2 separate regions of the Homo sapiens genome follow, and region 1 is linked to region 2. The links come from fine-mapping of genetic effects on plasma protein levels. A gene starts in region 2. The other region holds a variant in brackets. All regions are shown on one strand. Distances are between the middles of the regions.

What was found. PIP is the posterior inclusion probability: the model's chance that the variant is causal. Protein levels are from antibody-based Olink assays in UK Biobank. Linkage for the fine-mapping came from a reference panel and not from the study's own genotypes, which makes the PIPs less certain.
Region 1: its variant is fine-mapped to the plasma level of the LAMA4 protein (UK Biobank, PIP 0.95).

What each region holds. Positions count from the first base shown.
Region 1 is chr6:112,133,884-112,144,456 of GRCh38, forward strand. It overlaps LAMA4 (laminin subunit alpha 4), which reads right to left. Exons shown (of 39, transcript NM_001105206.3): 20 at 8,236-8,409; 21 at 7,475-7,620; 22 at 6,877-7,039; 23 at 5,869-6,002; 24 at 5,237-5,408; 25 at 2,240-2,371; 26 at 584-726. The region is part of intron 1 of LOC107986633 (a long non-coding RNA gene); the gene reads left to right. Among named protein-coding and RNA genes, the nearest start is that of FAM229B, 52 kb to the left of the region's middle. RefSeq lists an enhancer at 6,933-8,132. The variant T/C (reference allele first, on the strand shown) is at 4,465.
Region 2 is chr6:112,248,706-112,259,278 of GRCh38, forward strand. LAMA4 (laminin subunit alpha 4) reads right to left here and starts at 5,862. Exons shown (of 39, transcript NM_001105206.3): 1 at 5,754-5,862; 2 at 5,251-5,586. The coding sequence starts at 5,445. The region is part of intron 2 of LAMA4-AS1 (LAMA4 antisense RNA 1); the gene reads left to right.

The DNA.
Region 1 (10,573 bases), 110 kb before region 2:
ATGAAACTAAGAAATAAATTATTCTCTTATGTCACAAGTGATGTTAGGATTTGAACACAGGTCTTCAGACTTTTATTAATCCACGTCATTAATGAATCCATTTTGGCATTATTTCCAACACATCTGTAATCAACAAAGTTTAGGGGAGTGTCTTAATGTTTCATTATACATAATACACAACCCTTTGGATAACCTTAAAAATTTGTGTAGCTCAGATGCTATTGGAGAGTTCAAAATGGGTTTAAGGCTAAAGCAAAAGTAAATGGACAAATGCTGTTTTGTCTTCACACAATACACATGTTCCACCGTTCCTATTATTGATGAGAAATACTGCATTAGATCATGTTCTAAGAGTAATACAATAATTGAAGAAATCTGTGATTACATCTATGCGATGCTAATTTCAGGAGGTCCTGAGGACTGACTGCAGAGGGCCTGAAGGTACATGAATGTGTGTACCTGTGCCTGTCCCTGTGTGTAAAAGTAGCAAGTAAGGGTGCGTACACTGTTACTAGACCTCTCCTGGATGTTGCCAGCCCAGTACATTGCTAGGAACAAACAGCTACTTAACAAAAAGCCTTACCTGGATTGTAAGATTTCTGGAGGAGCTCCTCCAATGTATATATCTGTAAAAGGTATTTTCATCTTTTCATTATCCATGCTCTTGACATGCCTTCTGTCAACTACCAAGATCATTTTCTTATCATTGTGGTAAATGATTGAGATCTGGGAGAGATAATATATAGTAAGCCTTGATTAACTATTTAATATTCAGTTCTTTGATGACTTCTATATATTTTAATTCTCCTGGTATACTAGCTGTTCTTCCATGCCTTTGTGCTTGTTTGTTCACAAAATGGGGAATAGATAGATTTTCTTTTCTCACAGACTTGAAAACTCTTGCTTCTACAAGCAGCAGTTCACACTTTCTGGGAAAGGAGGTCTGTATGAAGAGGAGCCAGCCCAAGAAAAATTTTGCGATTAGACCTATTGTTTCCTCCTGCTCCTTCTGAGAGGATTCAGGAAAGAACTATAAACAGGTGCCACCATTCTCTTTTTTTTTAAAAAAACAACTTTATTCAAGTCTAGTTGACATACAAAGAACTACACATATTTTATGTATACAATTTGATGAGCTTGGACATATGCAAACACTCATATCATCTTACAATCAAGGTAAGAGACATATCACACATTTCCCAGCATTTCCTTGTGTCCCTTTGTGGTGTGTGTGTGTGTGTGAGCATGTGTGTTACGCACACTTAACATGAGATCTATCCTAAATAAATTTTAAATTAGTTTTAACTATAGGCTCCATGCTGTACAGCAGATTTCGAGAACTTACTCACCTAGCACAACTGAAACTGTATACACATTGAACAGCAATTTCTTATTTCCCTATCCCCTAACCCCTGGTGACCCCTATTGTATTCCCAAGCAGGTGCCTTCTGGAATCTAGATTGCATGTTACCAGGTGTAATTTTTTTGGTGACACAGTGAGCAGTTCTAATGAATCTGCAAAAATGCTAGTCAGAGAAATAGTTAAAATATTCTTTTATTGTAAACCATTCTCATGAGGCTATGGACTTTGAACTGAAAAGGGAAATACAGTCTCCTACCCTTCGCATTTTGGTTCAACTTAAAAGATATTATGCCTTGTATACACTTTATTAAGTTGTATATTTAAAATAGTTAATGAAAATGGATGAAGTATATTTTCAGTAGTCTGCACATCTGTTTCAAAACTAAAGGGGATTCTTTGTGAGTTCTCTTTATAAGGAAAACTGTGCTAGTATTTTCTAAATTCTGGATAAGTGGTTTAAAAGGAAATTCTGTATTTACTTATATGTATTCTTGTTAAATTTGGTGGGGCTCAAAGGATAAGCAAAAAAAGGCTGTGTATCTACACTCTGGCTCATTCAACAAATGTATAGAAGTATCCTGTAGGAATACCAATTGAGATATTTAAGATTAATAGAAGCCTTCTGGTTAATTAAGCAATTAAAAGGAATCTTTCAGTGACTTTTAAATTGGAACATCAACAGGAAAAATACATCCAATGTTTTAAAGTAAATGTTTTCCTAGGGTTGAGAAGATGAGGGTCCTTCAGTTGCTCTTTAGATATGAAAGTTCTCAGTTTATTTACCATCCTGCCTGTCTCATTTGACTGCCTGATTAGATCAACAGATCTAAGTATAAAGAACAAAAACAAAACCAACCAAACTACAATGATTTGTACCTCATGGTATTTTGCATCATTAATTTGAGCTTTCTTTAACGTATCTTCAAGATGCACAGGGCCACCGCTGAATCCAAAATCATAGAACACATGTAGGTAACCATTGCGCATTTCCAGTCTGAAAAACATACTCTGAGGAGAGAAAGGAATTGTAAGATAGGAACATCTGTTATGCGAGTAGAGTCAGATTTAGCTGAATTTGAGAAATAAGACTGTATTCTTTATTACTGGAACTATTTGAAGACTAAGAAAGTCTCATGAAATTCTTATGAAATAAAAGTGACAGTGTCTGGGAGTGGTGGCTCACACCTGTAATCCCAGCACTCTGGGAGGCCGAGGCAGGTGGATCACTTGAGGCCAGGAGTTTGAGACCAGCCTGGCCAACATGGCAAAACCTTATCTCTACTAAAAATACAAAAACTAGCCAGGCGTGGTGGTAGGCACCTGTAATCCCAGCTACTCAGGGGGCTGAGGCAAGAGAATCGCTTGAACCCGGGAGGTGGAAGTTACAGTGAGCCGAGATCGTGACACTGCACTCCAGCCTGGGCTACAGAACGAGACTCTGTCTCAAAAAAAAAAAAAAAAAGTGACAACTACTTCCATATCAGCAGCTATTTCTCTTATTAATACATAAAAGTTAATATTTATACACAGTGTAAAAATTCTTCTGTTTTCATTCTACTTTCTGAACTAATGGATGAAGTTTTAAGTCTACATTATTGCCTTTTAAGAAAATCTTGAAAATAGAGTATAGTATACCATGTTTATTCAACTGCCTTGTCTTTAGGAAACTTTTAAAAATTATAACAGGCCAACAGATGTGTCTGCATTTATTTTAGGTGAAAATTAGTAAAATTAAAAAATAATTTCAAGGTATACTGAAAAGAATTCTTCCATATTATCAGCAAATATGGATTTAAAAAAAGAAGGCCATTGCTGTATTGTTTTGAAACACTGGATTTATGTAAATAAATATAGAATTATTATGCACTTGGAACACATGATGTTTAAGAATCAAAGAAATTTTGTAACACTCAAATAATTTACTGGAGTTTTGCTTGTTTCAGAAGATAGTTCATAGATACAAGAAGTCAATGGATTTGAAAAATAAAGCATTGTGGCAAGGTCCCTATTCTATAGGAAGTGATCTCCTGAGTGGAGTTTGTACATTCCTGGGAGTGTGGAAAGCAGCCTACTGGAGTTTAGGAAGAAAATATTTCAACTTCTATTTATACTAATTTAAAAAAACCTGAAATAGAGAAGAAAATATTTCAACATCCATTTATACTCACTAAAAAATCTAAAATAGAGAAAGAAACTAACTTTTAATATTTAACACATGAATTATTGACTCTGGGCCTTCATTTTATCCTTTTGTCAGACTTTCACAAAATTCACATAATATGTGTGGCTTCCCAAGAGGGGTTCCACACTTGAAGAGTTGAAGGTAGCTCCTCATCCATTTCTTTGCTTCTAGCCTATTGCAATTTATTGCAGTTTACGTGTGGCTAGTTATATGGATTTAAGGCTGATATAACCGAAATAATAGAATATTTACACTCATTTTGTATTGAGATGTAGAGTGATGTGAAAACATTTTGAGACACACAGATATTTGCTGGCTACTTCCTACAAATTTCTGAAAATGCTGTTAAGTTTATAGAGGGTTACACATTTTTCTTTGTAACATGAATTATTCTAAATTTGTTGAACTTTATTCGTGATGACAAATGTCTGACAGTAGTATGAATCCTACTAGTTATTTCAAAAAAGAAACATACTGTCACATCAATGTAAGGGTATTATCATAATAATGGATGAGAAAGTAACTTTTTCTCCTTTTTTTTGAGGACGGTTATACTGTGGAGAGATGGTTTTTAAAAAATATGTTTGGGAATTTTTCTATTGTTGCTTTTGTTGATGGGAACAATGTAAATGCAATCCTACAAAAACTCTCCTATCAGCTCTATTAAAACATTTGAGGGAAGAAATTTCTAACCTTTAGAAAAATATTTCAAATAAAGATTTTCAATAGCTTTGAACCCTTTTATTAAAGTTTACAAAATGATACCTGGTTAGCTTACAAGAACTAATATTAGAAAAAAGGAAATACACCAATCAAATCTCAAAGACAACCTTTGCCACTTGGTGAATGTGATTGAAAACTATTTGAGTTAGTAGGCACAGCTAATGATATGGTTCTTTCATTTTTTATTTTTGTGAGG[T/C]GTCTTGTCTAGTTACAACCACCAATAAAATTACTGTTGAAATAAACTGGACTTAGGACAAGACTTTTGAATCACTGTGTCACAAAGAGTTTAAGGATTTTTGAAAATATTTAGCATACTTAATTACATTTTCTCACTAAAACTATTTTCTTTGAGCTGTACAGTAGATAAAGTACTATTAAAAATAATTTTAGTGAGAAAAACATTTCTGTATCATTAATAAATAAGTCAATTTAATCTTCATTTTAAATATATAATCTTTTATTTTATCTTTATATAATTTGTCCTTTATTACAAGCTTTGACTGTTTCATACTATATTTATATCTGTTTATAGTACACATGTATCATTTATAAACAAAGATATATATGTGTGTGTGTGTACATACATATATACTTACATACACACATACATATATACAAAGCATGCAAGCTTTGCTTTAAAATTGATTAGGGCATATGGTTTGGAAAAGTTAGGAGCCCAGTGCAAAATTTCTGCAGACACCCTGCTCATCTAGATCTTGGTTCTAATTTCCTCAAAGTTCTCTTAGTTTATTTATATCCAAAAATGTACTGTGGGGAAATGCATCTCAGGGTTGCTTTTATTTATTGCTGTCATTACTTTCCTGAAGAAGAAAATCCAATTTGACTTTCTAAACTAGAATTTCAGTTTGATGGCATGACACACTAGACCTGGGAAGGTTCCTGGAAACATGAGTAGCAGAAAGTAAAGGAAATAAAGGAGAAGTAGTAGGACTTGTATTTTTACTCACTCCATTGACCATCAGGAGAATAAGGCCGTTGTCAGCTGGTGTTCGAACTTCTATGTCAAAGCGAGTCACCTGACCAAATTTCCCTCTCCTTGTGATGTCTCTCACCACGGCATAACCGGAGCCATCGAAGAAGTAACTGGCAGCCCGACTCTGAGTGAAGGCCAGCTTATCTCTGAAATGGAAACACAACGGTCATTTGAACACTACAGTTTCTGTTATGCTTTTCAAGTGAAGCCCTTTTAACCCATTCTTCTAACATCTTCTGTGGACCTTACAACATTTAAATGAAGTCCTGTTGTCTGCAAGGAAGAGATAAAGAGGTATTTGTAGGTATGTTAAATGGATTGTTTTCTTCTGTATCCTGTGTGCTAAGACAACTGAAGTCTCCAGGGACACCCTAGTCTCTGGAATCCTTAATCAAGGCTGCAAACAAGTTGTTTAACACTTCATACTTGGGCATGCTCATCTATGATAGAGAACAGGTGAAGAGTTTTTTGCAGGTATGACTTATGTAGTTTCAAAACTGGCTTCCCCAAAGAAAAGTTTGAGAACCTGAATATTGACTCATACTTGTTCTATCTGCTGCTCTTGCATGAATATCCAAGTCTTTAGTACTCTTAACTGTCTCTTACCGGGCACATGGCACTGATGTGGAGGGGTCCATATTATAGATGTGCTTAAAGTTGTACAAGCTGATCACATCATTATTCAAAGTGGCCAGTTCCAGGCAGCCAACAAAGCCAGGCAGGTTTAAGCTGGTAGGGAGCTATGCAATAGAAAAAGTAAAACCACTTGTCTCATGGTCATATTTTACTCAGACATCACAGAACAGACAATGCAACTAATAGTAGGTCAAGGAGACCTACCCCTTTGTGGAAATATCTTTCTAGACCCGAGTGTGTTTATGCCAAATCATTTAGATATGGCGTAACTTGTCAGTTGTGCAAATCTTAGCAGAGAAAGTGGGATTTACTGAGCATAGATTATGTGCTGGTCATAGGCTGTACAGTGAATTCATGACAAAAATCAGTCCTTGCGCCAGCTTTGTTAGGTAGGTATTCTTGTTCTCATATAATGAGAGGGAAAATAATTCTCAGATAAATTCCAATTATGTGCCCATAACTAGTAATAATAGTCCTGAAATTGGAACCCTAGATCAACTTCCCATCTTCTTCGACCTTTCCTTTATCCCCCTTCATCAGATTTCATACTCTCTCCGAAGTCTCACCCCCTCTCTCATCCCAGATACTTTATTTCATACCTGTATTAGGTGAGATAACTGAATTTTTGAAACCACCACTGCAAAGCTGAAGATTAGATCTAAACTGTGGTGACACCACAAGCTACGGACCTTCCTGTGGCAGGTGGGGGTAATATTAATTACATATGCATGTATCAGAATGAATGAACTGATCTTCAGGAGTTAGCTATAACTTGAAAGCATTTGACATTATGAAAATATGAGTAGCATAGACCAGATTTACACATCAGGTTTATAGATTCTGGTTCAGAATTCTACTCCCCCATGAACTAAGCTCTTAAAGTGATATCAGCAACCCCCAAGTCATTATAGGTTTATGGATTTATAAAAACAATTACTGTAGATTTGTAATAGGTCAAAATATAGCTGTATGGCTGACCTTGAAGTTGGAAGGCACTCCACCAACATAAAACACTGTGTCCTCAGGGTCCAGGTCCAGCAGAGAGTCATCTCCCGAAAATTCCCCCTTTTTAATGAACTTTTCCTCTGCTGTGCTACTTAGACTCGGGACTGTTAAAAACACCTTTCCATGTTTTCCCACCCTATTGAGATAAATAATTTTCACTTGTTATTATATAATTCATAGAAAATACTTTTTAAATGTCAAAATGTTAATGCTCCCTCATCACAAAATGGGTAATTTTGTGACACTAATAAGCATTTACAAAATACCACAATCAATGAGAAAGAGAAGAAAGACATTCCATTTTGAAGTTAATTCATGGATTGACCAGGTAAAATCTAATAATCAGATCGTGATTTAGAAATGACTTTTTTTTTTCTTTCCTACTAAGGTGTTTGGGAAAGAATATAAGAATAATGGAAGAAAACGGAGCAAGAATAAAGGGAGGAAAATGCTATTTATAACATCCACAGGAAGACTGTGTATGTGTGTGTGTGTGTGCACGCACATGTGCACGTTCAACAGGTTTCTTGTGATATGTGCATATATGCCCTGTGTCATGGATTCACTGTACCTTTCAATCTTGACAATGCTGAAGTAAGCAGGCCAGGAACTGACGGGCTTGGAGTCCAGGGGAATCTCCACATCTTTAGTTCCCAAATTATAGACGTATACCAGATTATCATTTTTGATTGCAAGACCCATATACTCTTTTTTGGCCTGAAATATCAAGAAGTAAGAAGTCATTTAAATAAAATTCATAAGAATGAACATCATCTTTTTTAAAGGACAATCAGAAATCCAAATATTTGGGTATATACAAGTGACTTCTGGCCTGAATTATTATCCGAAGCTCCTGTGAGCAGGCAGTGTCTCTTCCTTTCCAGCCTCCCTGTGGCCACATCAGAGTCTGCTGGCCCCATCTTGCTCAGGCTCGTGGAAATTTGTTGGCTGCCAGGAATGGGCTAATTTTGTGAGGCTAACCCAGGAATATAATACAGCCTGACAGTACCGATCACTATGCATCTCTAAACAGGATTCAGCATCAAACAGAATAGGCTTCTGTCTTTCTGAAAGTCTTTGAGGTGTTTCATTCAGACTCATCAAAGTTAGTAGTGTGATGGTGATAGGAAACAATCCCCACAATATCCCACACAGAGAAGAAATGACTTGTCCTTTAGTCATTCTTTTAATTTTGCCATTAAAATGAGATCTTCTGAGTTACCAGAATGGGCATTGTTTTGGTTTGTTTGCCTAGGTGGCTTTATTTTAGGCAAGAGAAAAAGCAGCTTTCCTTGTAAATATTATTCCCTCCTTTCAAACTCATGTGCTTACGTTTTTGCTTCCGAGGTACAGGATAAACTGATCTGCAGTCTCGGTCAGTTCCGGCCGCTTCACAGGGGGTTTCATGTACAGGCTCAGAGACGTGAAGGCCTTTAAGTCATCCATACTGGTTCTCGAGTGCACTTCCACAGCTGACTGGCCATCAAACATCATGGAGACTTGGATCTGGAGTGACACAACGGTTTCATTAAAAGTGCTTTGCAGAAATGGGCAGAGTGCTTTCCCGTGCTTCCCTCATTCGTGACAGGGGCCTATAAACTCTCTTCACCTCCATACCTGTAGTTATTTACCACATCCTCCCCTAGTTGAAGAGAAGACTTAGGGCAGATTGTGACACAGTAGTTTAAAGTGGGGTGAAAGAAAGCAAAAAAAAAGTGGTGACTAAGTAGATCCAAGAATGAGGATAAATATGAATTCCACCATGAACAGTATACTTGGTTTGGGTGAACTAAACAACTTGCTCAAGTTGTCTGGTCAGTATACAATTCACAAGGCTCATACAATTTATACAAAACTAATTGTTTGGGAGAAGTAGAACTAATTTTGGTTACTAATACAGCTGGGACTTTGTCCCTAGGGTCCTCATAAAAGGGACATGGGGTGAGGCTGTGAGCAACATCCTTGCCCTTGTCTACACAGTTGGGAGGGGTCTGGACTAGCTTTGTAGTCTCAGACCAGGTGGGCTCTACCACTTCCTAACTATGTAACCTTGAGCAAGTCACTTAACCTTCAGTTTCCTCATCTGTGAAATGAGGATAATAAATTTGTTGTGAGCATGAAATACGATAACTATAAAGTGCTTTCCAGTGCCTGGTCCTACCATTATAATAACTGTAATAATGAGTTCATAAGGTGCCTCTTATAATGGCTCACAGAAAGGCATCACAACAAAGCACAATTCAGTAAGTGCATTTCTAAGAGGCCCAATATGATATGCTGAGCTGGTCTGATTCAGGGATAATTTTTAGAGTATTTACAAGTGTATGGATTGTGTATACTTATGTCATTTATCTGAATCTTTCCAAATGATTAGGCATCTTTATATTAATTTATTAATATTGATTTGGCTAATGTGGGTGGTCAGTGAGCTCAAGGCTCTATTTCCAAATGACTGGAGTGCAGCTGTCCTATGTTATCAGTTGAGTAAAAACTAATACTTTTTTTTTTTTTTTTTTTTGAGACACAGTCTCACTGTCACCCAGGCCGGAGTGCAGTAGCACAATGTCAGCTCACTGCAACCTCCATCTCCCAGGTTCAAACAATGCTCGTGCCTCAGCCTCCTGAGTAACTGGGACTACAGGTGTGCGCCACCACGCCCAGCCAATTTTTGTATTTTGGTAGAGACAGGGTTTTGCCATGTTGGCCAGGCTGGTCTCAAACTCCTGGACTCAAGGGATCTGCCCACCTTGGCCTCCCAAAGTGCTGAGATTACAGGCATGAGCCACCGCACCCGGCCAAGACCAATACATCTTAATAAACAAGCAGTGTGGGGGATTAAAGTCTTACATTAATAAGTGAGAGTCTGAGAATAGTGCATGTCTGCATGAAAAGCATCCCACTTGGGGGCACTGAGTGAGCTCCCAACTCCCAAAGGTGGGGCTAAGTCTGTCTTTAGCAAATGGTCTTAGGTGATTAAGGTCCCAAAGTCATACTCTTTATAGAAATAATATTACAAGAAAGCACTCATAAAAACCTAGCTTTTAGAATGCCATTTCTTGATGTACCTTTAGATAAACCTTTTTTGAAAATGTTCACTGGGGCATCTAAATAAGGTAATTTGTCACAAGGGACCATTTATCATCATTTAAAAGTCAGGTCTATTTACCAAGAATAATCTTCTACATTACGAAATAGTTGATTTCTAACTCTTCTTTCTGTCAGTAATTAGGACCAGTAGTCTGCTCAGGCCGATTCTTAACTGAGAAAATAAAACCATATACTTTGGTCATAAAAAGTGAGTCTGGTCTATGAATCAATTAAAAAAATTCAAGAGGTCCAAGAACAAGCTCCACTTTGCCACATTGAAAAGTAATTGCTATGTCAGGAGATGTTCCTACAAATGCCAGCCCTAGTTATCTTCTGCTAAGTTGCTTCTATATGTGTCCCAAAACACATATAGTGTGTTTGTTGAGTTTATTCCTCTTAGCCAGTATGTGATTCCTCAGTTAACCCTGCGGGTGGTCAGTAAAAGCTTCTGCATAATTTGTGTTGTACCAGATAATTTCTTGAAGGGGTAGGACAGATGGGATAGATTATTCCATTATGGTAATTGCACTAAAGCAGCTGTTAAAATAACATAAAATATAAGAACGAATTGAGGCTTTTATTG
Region 2 (10,573 bases):
ATCTAAATCAACAGCTTTTAAGATAGACTGTAGCATCACGTGGAGGACACACCCTAGAATATCATTATAAAGAGAAAATAGGATAAGGAGACTCTATAGTTGAAAAAAAAAGTGCTCTATCAGGAAGACTCCCTGGTATACAGAAAGCAGAGAAAGGAATATGAAAATTTGGTTAAGGTAATTACCACTCTTAAATGTCAATGAACTCATCTGTAAAATGGGTATAATTTTCACTATTTAGTATTAAGACAATTCATGGAGGTTGATGGGACATAGTAGAAGTCAACAAGTATTAGTTTTTTTCTTTCTTACGTGAGTAGTTTTAAAAAGTAGTCATTAGGCTAGACGGAGAAGGGAAGTTATCTCAACTTTTTGTAACTTATGCTACTCATCTAACAAGCACTGCAAAAATGGTCTTTAAATTGCATTTTATATTTCTTCATTTAAAGAAATTCCCAGCAGGGTGCGGTGGCTCACGCCTGTAATCCCAGCACTTTGGGAGGCCGAGGCGGGTGGATCATAAGGTCAGGTGATAGAGACTATCTTGGCCAACATGGTGAAACCCTGTCTCTACTAAAATACGAAAAATTAGTTGGGCGTTGTGGCATGTGCCTGTAATCCCAGCTACTTGGGAGGCTGAGGCAGGGGAATCGCTTTAACTCAGGAGGCAGGGGTTGCAGTGAGCTGAGATCAAGCCACTGCACTCCAGACAGGCAATAGAGCAAGACTCTGTTTCAAAAAAAAAAAAAAAAAAAAAAAAAAGGAATTCCCAAAACTTTGACTAGAAGTATTCCTATATATATTTCTATTTACCTAATCACCTCTTCCTAGCTACTTTTGCACAGTTGAACTGCTTTTATAAACTCCTTCCTAGCTGTGCTGCTTACAAGCAGGGGCCTGGGCAAATGCTCTGTGCCTCGGTTTCTATGTGTATCAAATGAGATAATAACGATACCAGTCACATTGATTTGTCATGAAAGTTACTGGAAATTACTCATGGGAAGTGTTTACATCAGTATCGGCATGTGGTAAGTACTCAACGAGTATCAGCTATGAGCCATACTATTATTGCTATTACCACCACTGCTATATTCCAGTTCTTCTAAAATAAGGTTTTTGAAGCCTATTTTGGTGTTTGGCAAGTAAGTTTTGTGCCCTACTGGTCTAGCACAGGAATAATACTTTTTTCACATTACCTCCATGGCACTTACCTTGTAGCCACTCTTATAGAATGTTAGTACATTGTTCTGTATATAATGGCCACTTATTTTTTTTCTCTCTTCAATTGCTCACCCCTGAGGGCAAAGATGAGACTATACCTTCTTTCTATTGCTCCTTGTACCTATTTTATTGCTCTTTCGAGGTAAGGCTCCAAACCAGCTTGTTGGGTGAATAAATGAATGAAATAATGACTGCATGTAAGGGGTTCAGATTACCTAATTGAATTGTTGGAACAGCAATGTAGAGTGATAACCCAGGCTAGCAACTGGAGGTCTTAGTGTGATCTCAAGGGACCTTTTTCAAAGCAAGTGACCAAGATAAGAAAAAAGAAAGCAGATGGTTAAAGAGATCTAAAATGTTTTTATTAAACATTCTGCAATCTTTTAATGGCAGGACCCTAACAATGTGCTGGGACATGGGGTCACGTATCAACAAGGAAAAAAGTCAAGAGGAAAAGTCCCTCAGAGTTAGTCTGCTTTATAGAGTTTCTTTTTAGCAAGTCAGTTTTTCCAGTGTAAGGTATGTTCATGGGCACTGATCTTCTTGGAGTGAAGTTAACACAACAATAATGACAACAATAGCAAAACTGAGGTTTCTAGGAGAGAAATTCCTCTTTTCCCCTCTGAGGGGCAACTCATTGACAACTCAATGTTGTCAATTGTATCCCTTATTCTATCATTTATCTGTGAAAGCCAGTAATAGCACCGTCACCTCCTCCACCACCTTCCACCTTGCCCTGTCAGAAGAGTCCTTGCCTTCTCAGTTTCTCAGTCTCTGTGTGGCTTCTTTCCAGCCACACAATGTAACCTCCAACCTCATGTTCTTGACCTTGTTTAGTTCCTACTTCTTTTTGATGGACAAGAATCTCATTCTTCCTAAGGACATTCTGTTACTGGCTTCTTGTGGGGGTGTTCCCATCTTCATTCCTGCCCCCACACCAGTTCTTTTCCATATCTACCATATCTATATTGGTCAAGAAGAGTTTGGCCTAGTTTTTCCTGCTATAGTGTGTGTGGTGGAATGAATAGACTTTCTTTTCCTTAATGTGAAATATTAGAATACTGATTATCATTATTGAAACTGCCCAGTCTTCCCTTTTGAGAATCACCTGTTGAGAATCACTGTTCTCACCATAAACTCAGCAATAAAGGACTCAGTAGATTAAGTGTCAAGAAGCAAAGGTGGGAAAATCCTCCCCACAACTAGTACGGAGTTACCCACAGGTGCTCTTCTTTTCAAATACTTTGCATCTGGGGGGAAGCTTTGGCTTGTTTTACAAGGAAAAGAGGAGACTTCCTTTTTGGTCAGCCAACAATCTCTATCCTTTTATTCCGTGCATATTTCATGTATTTGTTCCCCAGCTCACATGGAGCAATACAGCATGCCAGAGTTTGTGTCTTGGGCCAAGTACTCAGGGATGGAGAGTCCACAAGCTGGGCTATTGAAGAGCTTAGGAGAACCTCAGGAAGGCCTTCAGCCAAGCACCTCCCACTGCTCCATGCTTGCCTTAATATTTTTCTTCATTCCCTCTGAAGGAGAATTGCAGAATAACCATTCATATAAATCCAAGTAAAGAGAATGTATTTTTAGAATATCTTCCCATCCACACATTGAACCTCTCCCATGAATAATGTGTCCGTGTTCTCTTTCTCTCTCCACATATACACAAATACAGTCTCCTGAGCCAACCCAGTAAAGTGTTTGTACCATGTTATTAAGTCTCCGGAATGTATTTGGTTTAAGGTCTGGTTACTGCTATAAAGAGCATGGGAAACCTGATGGTGGGGCGTTGGGATCGCCATGGGACCGCAGGCTAACTGGAGGCATTATGTGAAACTATGCAGTGGGAACATAATTACCTCAATCTCACCCTTTCTACACCATATACTTTGACCTTCCTGGAATGACTAATATCTTCTTTCTGTTTTTCAAAACTGAAGGCCTCCACTGGCATTCTGAACCTATTAGACTCTGACATTACTACAAATTTAATTCACTACGTGACATTTTTTTTCCAGCTGGAAGAATATAGATAAACAGATATAATAATATTAAGTAAAAGAAAACCATAAACATAAGGTTCTAAGGAATATTCTCAAATAAGGGTTTCTTTTAATCTGATCATCATCCACATTTTTTATAGTAACAATTGTAACAACTCTTGGCATATATAGGGCATTTATACTATGTCAAGCACTATGCTAAGCACTCTATTTTATCTAATTTCATTACAATAAAAGTATGAGGTATGAAGCAGGCATCAATAAATTCTGTCAGTATCAGTTTATCTGCAGTCTGGGGATCTGTAACTTGACCAAGGTCAAAGAGCTTGAAATTTCAACTTGGGACCATCAGACTGAAAACCTGCAATCTGAAACACTTTGCTGTGCTGCCTTCCTATTATTTCACCAAACATATGAGCACATAAGAAATTTCCTAGGGTCTTAGCATTAATTTTAAGGTTCTCTAAAACTCAAAAAATTACTTTCCTATTTTTTTTGTGGGATGAGAGTTACAAAAAACAGTTGTATATGGCTTGTCTCTTTAGACCTAACAGATACAAATACAGGATGCCCGGATAAATTTGAATTTCAGATGAACAATGAAAACAAATTTTAATATAAATATGTCCTCTGCAGTATTTGGGATGTGATCAAAATTCATTCATTATTTATCTGAAATTCACATTTGAGTGTCCTGCAATTTATCTGCCAATTTTACTCTTAAGTAAAATTAAGCATTTCATTCAGGGACTTTACGTGCTCAAAGCAACAGGTGGAGATAATGCTTCCCTGGGGTTAATTCCAAGCCTGTAGAGAAGCAAAGCCTTCCCATTGCATGAAGTCCCTCCTGGTCTGGCTTCTCCCCAAGTTTCTGGGTATGAAGTTGACCAGAAGCCATGCTCCCTCTTTTTCATGGAGGCTACATTTTATACCACAGTGAGAGGTTGGCATATTCTGACCCTGTCCACTCTCTTTTTTGGGGCAATGTGGGTAGGGCTTACTCTGAAGAAGGACCATGTTCATGCACCTTATTTTTAATCATCAATAATTAATAACTATAATTGTACTAACAATTAACAGAATTCATAGCAATAATCCATGCATCAGTGATGTTAGAAATGGTGTCAATCCACATAACTGTTTTAGTTGTACAGTTGCTGTAACCATAGCTATAGAGTGTGGTGTTTGTTTTGCTAGGTCAATTGCTCCTTCCTTTCCCATGAACTTAGGTGACTTTATTTTCCTCCCTCTTAGCATGTCCCATGCAATGGGCATGCTGTTGTCTGTTTCAGTTCAGGGGTTCTTAAATCACTTGTTCTGGATTCATTCTCCTTTACCAGACCTCTACATTCTGGTTTTGTTTCCAACTTAAAAGCTATTGTAAGGTATTCAAACAGCAGCTCTTTGAATAAACATATTATCAATAGCATATCCTGAGGCTTGATTTTAATGGAAACATCTTGTTTCTGGAATACAATGGCTCGTTTCTACTTAAGATACCCTCTCAGCAGTTGTCTAACAGCTCCTTTCATGACCAGCCACTCTCACTCACCCCCTCACCTTCCCTGCTGCAGAAGACTTCTTGTCTAATATGAGACAAAAAGATCCTGCAGTAGTGTTCCCACTGTCCTAACAGCACAGAGGAGCAGGAAGCCAGTGACAGGGCACACACGTTAAGTGCCGTGGCTTGACAAAATGACTACTGGGACACGCAAGTGGCAGAAGTCACCGATGTGCTGCTGCAGTCCCCGGTGAGAGTCTAGCGGATGAACTCAGAGCACCAACACATGCACTCTCACCCCTTTGAGCAGACACATTCCGAAGCCTCAACTTTCAACTCTCAACATCCAAATGCAACTTACAAAGGAAAACTCTTTATTTCAAGTTTCCGAACTGACCTAGCCCAGGTGAAACTCTCAAGGCACTGGGGAGAGGAAAGAGGCGGAGAGAGAGAGAAGGACGAGTGTGGCACAGCCCGCGGGGGCGCAGGTGCCCCAGCAGGGTGGCAATGGCAGGGACACTGTACCTCGGCCGCAGGCGGCAGGCGTCCCAGAGCCACGCGGGGTTCGCTCGTCTCAGGCGGGTCTTGCCTGCCAACCGCTGAGCTCCCTTCAATGTCAAAAGGAAAAGCGTTGTCGTCCCCGGACGCGGCGCGGGAGCAGGCAGCGCTCCAGAGGAGCCACAGAGGCAGAACCGAGCGCCAGGCTGAGCTCAAAGCCATTTCTCCGCTGACATCCAGTAGTGCTCTTCCAGGGCTCGGGCGCTGTGGGTCTCCGTAGGTCTCCCGCGTGGTGCGGCGGTGCCTCGCTTATTTTCCCTCCTCTCCGTGTGCAGTATCCCGAGGTGGCTGCGCAACCAGCAGCTTAGGAAATAAAGGGAAAGTGCGAGAGTAAGGGAGAGTTCCAGCCTCTCTCTCCCTCTCTCTCTCTCCCCTTCTCCCCCTCTCTCTCCCTCTCCCTCTCCCTCTTTCACTTTTTCTCCTTCCCGCAGAGGTTCTGGCTCAAGAACCTACAGATGGACGGAGCTTACAGTACGGCATCAAAAGGCAGACGGATTGGGGTGAGCCCCGCCAGCGCTAGGCCACCTCCTCTCCCTGGCCGTTCGGGACTGGGGACTGCGCTGTCCTGGCTTCCTTCTCACATTCATTCTCACCACTCCCTTTTTACCTTCTACTCCCAGGCCCTCCCACTCTAAGCTGGCTTTTCAGACACTGAGGTCCGCCTTTCCCTGCGGTCTTCCCTCCCCTCTCAGTTTGGAGCCCCTCCAAGGGCTCCAGAAGAATATTCAGCTTTTGTGACGCTTCCTCACCACTCTTATTTATGTAGTCAAGGTACCGGATGTCTTATCTATATTTACATAGATATTTTATGTGGCCCCCGCTAGTTTGCAGGAAAGTGGGTGGAAAAGGGATTCCAGGGCAGGAACCAAAGGTAGATGATCTCTGAAGGCAGAGGGTCAGGGTGCCCACTTTCTTGAGCAAGGTTTCTCGGGTTTTTTCTGGGGGATAGACTGTTGCACTCTTTGTGCTAATATCTTCTCTTCAGATTCACTGGCCACCCCTCTTCCTCCCTCCAGTCCTCACCCAGAGGGCTTGGGAGAAGAATATCTTTCACTGCAGCGCTGGAAAATGACTTCATTACCCAAATGCATGAACTTTTATTTACAAAGACCATCTTGTTTTCATCCTAAAGAGGTGCTTTGTAAGGGGCCCGGAACAAGGCTTGCAGTGTATGAGCCTGTCAAGTATACTGCCTACAGCCCCGGCCTCTTCCTCTTGGCCTGTAATCTCATGCCTACTACATCTGTCTGAATCATGTAACCTTTCCAAGACTTCAGGGTGAAGTTGGGCTACAGCTATGTCAGGGGTGCCCCTGTGGATGGGATAGTGTCTGCAACAGCTGATAGGTACCTTTGTTTACATTGGCTTCATAACGAGCTCTAAACATTTCCACAAGATCCAACCATGGTTTAAAAATGGTCAGATGAGACAACCATAAAATGACACCCAGGTAAGCTTCCAGGTGAAATAAAGCATTTTTGTATAACCTAATCATAAAATAAATAAATAAAGCCTTTCCATAAAACCTAATCATTAGCTCCATTTCATAGAACAAAAGTCATTTTATCTAAGTGTAAGCAAAACCATTTATTTTGCACCTAACATGTGCCAGATACTTGGCATATGCTATTTGTAAACCTCAGCATTCCTGCAAAGTAGTACCATTATTTTCCTTTTACAGAAGAAGAAAGTGAGGTTCAGAGAGACTAGGACATTTGCCCAAGGTCGCACAGCTGGTGGAAAGCAGAGATGGGGTTTGGATCCAGGCCTCACTGATTCCAAAGCTCTCTTTTACATCTGTATACACGACACTGCAACTTTAAAATAAAGAGTATGAATTCAGAGGTGAAGGAAATGGACACTTTTATTTTTTGAGTGCCTCCCATGTGCAAAAAAATCACATAAATTGTCTCATTTAGGGCTGGGCGTGGTGGCTCATGCCTGTAATCCCAGCACTTTGGGAGGCCAAGGTGGGTGGATCATGAGGTCAGGAGTTCGATACCAGCCTGGCCAACATGGTGAAACCCCGTCTCTACTAAAAATACAAAATTTAGCCAGGCATGGTGGGAGGCGCCTGTAGTCCCAGCTACTCGGGAGGCTGAGGCAGGAGAATTGCTTGAACCCGGGAGGTGGAGGTTGCAGTGAGCAGAGATTTTACCACTGACTCCAGCCTGGGTGACAGAGAAAGACTCCAGCTCAAAAAAAAAAAAAAAAAAAAAAAAAAAAATTGTCTCATTTAATTTCATCTTTATGATAATCTCATGAAGTAGGGATTGTCATACACATTTGGCCATGGGTAAGTGGTAAAATTACTACTATAGCCCAGGTAAATCTGATGGTAAGATCTTTGATTTTAAATGATAAAATTGTATGATACAAAAGAACCAAAGCCAAAGGAAGCAAAAATAATTCCTATAGGTTTTAAAGTGATATTTTGATTTTAAAATATTAAAATAGTATTGCAAGGGACTATTAAGCTAAATTATGATACTCTTCTTTTACATAGACTTGTTAACCTACTAAATTAAGTGGGAGAAGTTAAAAACATGTTTGGTTTAGTTGAGAGACTGATATTGGGAAAAAAGATAGCCAGACTCTGAGACAAAACAGATTATGCTCAGTTATACTGACCCAGTCACCCTTTAAAAGAACATTAAATAATAATAATATTAATTATATATGATGTATATTAAATATTCTGACTTCAGATACAGATCTCTTCAGCTCACCAAAACTCATATATTTGTTTTCTGAAGGATTTCATCTTGTTCTTTACTAGCTGCCAATTAATCACACACTTTTTAATTTAATCTGGGCCCTCTTCTGTCTGCCTGCCCAGTGCTGGTAGGAGTGTATTCGTCCAAGACCTATGGACTTCTTATTTTTGGTTAAATATGTGCTCCCAGCTCTTCCTCTTCATCTTCTTTCTGTGGGTACTATTATTGTTTTTGAGACAAAATGGCATAATATGCAGGGGGATGGGTTTTGTATAAAATAAAACAGGGTTCAAATCCTGGGTCTGCATGTAGTACTTTTGGGAGCTTGGCATGTAACTTAGTCCCTCTGAAAGTTTCCTTCCCTGTAAAATGGGCATAATGATGCCTTTTTGTCATAGGCATTTCAACTAGAGCAATTCCATCTTGAATAGGGGCTGGGTAAAATAGGACTGAGACCTACTGGGCTGCGTTTGGAGGAGGTTAGGCATTCTAACTCACTGGATGAGACAGGAGATCAGCATAAGATACAGGTCACAAAGACCTTGCTGATAAAACAGCATGCGGTAAAGAAGGCAGTCAAATCCCAACAAAACCAAGGTGGTGACCTTGGTCGGACTCACTGCTCATTATACGTGAATTATATTGCGCTAACATGCTAAAATACACTCCCACCAGCACCATGACAGCTTATAAATGCCATGGCAACATCAGGGAGTTACCCTATATGGTCTAAAAAAGGGAGGAACCCTTAGGTTCCCAGAAATTGCCGACTCCTTTCCCAGGAAACTCATGAATAATCCACACCCTGTTTAGCATATAATCAAGAAATAACCATAAAGATAGGCAATCAGCAGCCCTTGAGGCTGCTCTGCCTGTGGAGTAGCCATTCTTTTATTCCTTTACTTTCTGAATAAACTTGGCTTTACTTAACTCTATGGACTCGCCTGGAATTTTTTGTTGCGTGAGATCCAAGAACCTTCTCTTGGGGTCTGGATTGAAACCTCTTTCTGGTAACATTTTCACTGAATTATTATGGGTAGTAAATGAAAGAATATAAATAAACATTAACACAGACTAGCATGTAGTCAGAGCTCAATAAATACTATTTAATTATACAATAAGCCCCCATTTAACATTATCTATATGTTCTTGGAAACTGCAACTTTAAGCAAAACAACATACAATGAAGCCAATTTTACCTTAGGCTAATTGACATAATTAAGATTTATTTAAATTCCTATGACATAGTTCTGGTCACAAAAACATCACTAAACTTCTAAAGAAAGACCAAAATGCTTCTAATGGTAAATATGAAAATAAATGTGAGCTATACGTACATTTCAGAAAGATTAATAGAAACAAGTGTGAGAATTATTTACCCAATGTTTGGTGAATCAGTGAGTGACAGCAGTCATAGTGGTGGTGGGTTAAAGCAAGGAATAAATGTTTTAAAGCAAAAATTATAAGCACCTCCTACCACCATGCAATTCAAAAAAACCCAACAACAAATATGATGGGCTCGCTGAACGCTTCCATGCAGCATCATTTATTGTCATATGCCTGTATGATTATTGTAGACTTCATGAATTTTTATTTGATAACAATTTTTGTTCATTATTCAATCATTTTCCAACCTGCTTTTTCCAACTCAGAGTGTTGGGTGGCTGGAGCCCATACTGGCAGCTCAGAGTTCAAGCTGGGGACCCTGGACAGAAGGCCATTCCATTGCCGGGCACGCTCACACACACACAGCCACACTCACTAAGACTGGAACCATGCAGACGTACCAAGGAACGAGGATATCTTTGAGATGTGGGAGGAAACTGAAGTACCTGGAGAAAACTCACGTGAGAACTTGCAAATTCCACACAGACAGTGGCTCCAGCCAGGAATTGATTTTTTTTTTTTTCTCACCAATATTATGACAAAGCAACATTGAAAGAAACAATGTTATTCTGGGACCTGCCTTACTATATTTTCAAATCTTAAAGAAGAACAAAATGACTATTGTAAAAGAGGAAAGGCAACCATTTTATTTATCCTGGTGTAGGTAACCTCCCATGTTTGAGAATAGCCATTCACATTTCTGGCTGCTACTGGGCCCTTCCTTGCATTAACCAGGAATGAGGCAGTCATGGGCCACAGAGTCATAGGTCAAGCAGATGAGGAGAGAGCACGGCTGACTAATTTACAGCAAGTTAAAAGGCAGCAGAAACCTTTGGTGAGTTACCTCCTCACCAAAGGGCCACTCCTTGACCACCAAACACCTGAGTGTAGGAGGATTTTATTCCTGCCACAAGGGCAACTGGGAAGCATTTCTAGTGCGGCTGCTTTCTTATCACGGCTCTCCCTTTCTCTCCCTCCTGGGATTGAGGCTTGGTGTTCACCCAGTCTTTTCATGGCTGTCATCGTTTTCGGGACACCTATCTACCCCGTGATGACAGGGGTGCTGCTCCATCATCCACAATGCATAGAAGACAGCACGGACATGCAGAGACGCTCACAGTGCCTACAAGGACACTAAGCCCGTTAGTACAAAACGAGGGCCCCCACACCATCCAACTCCCAGACCA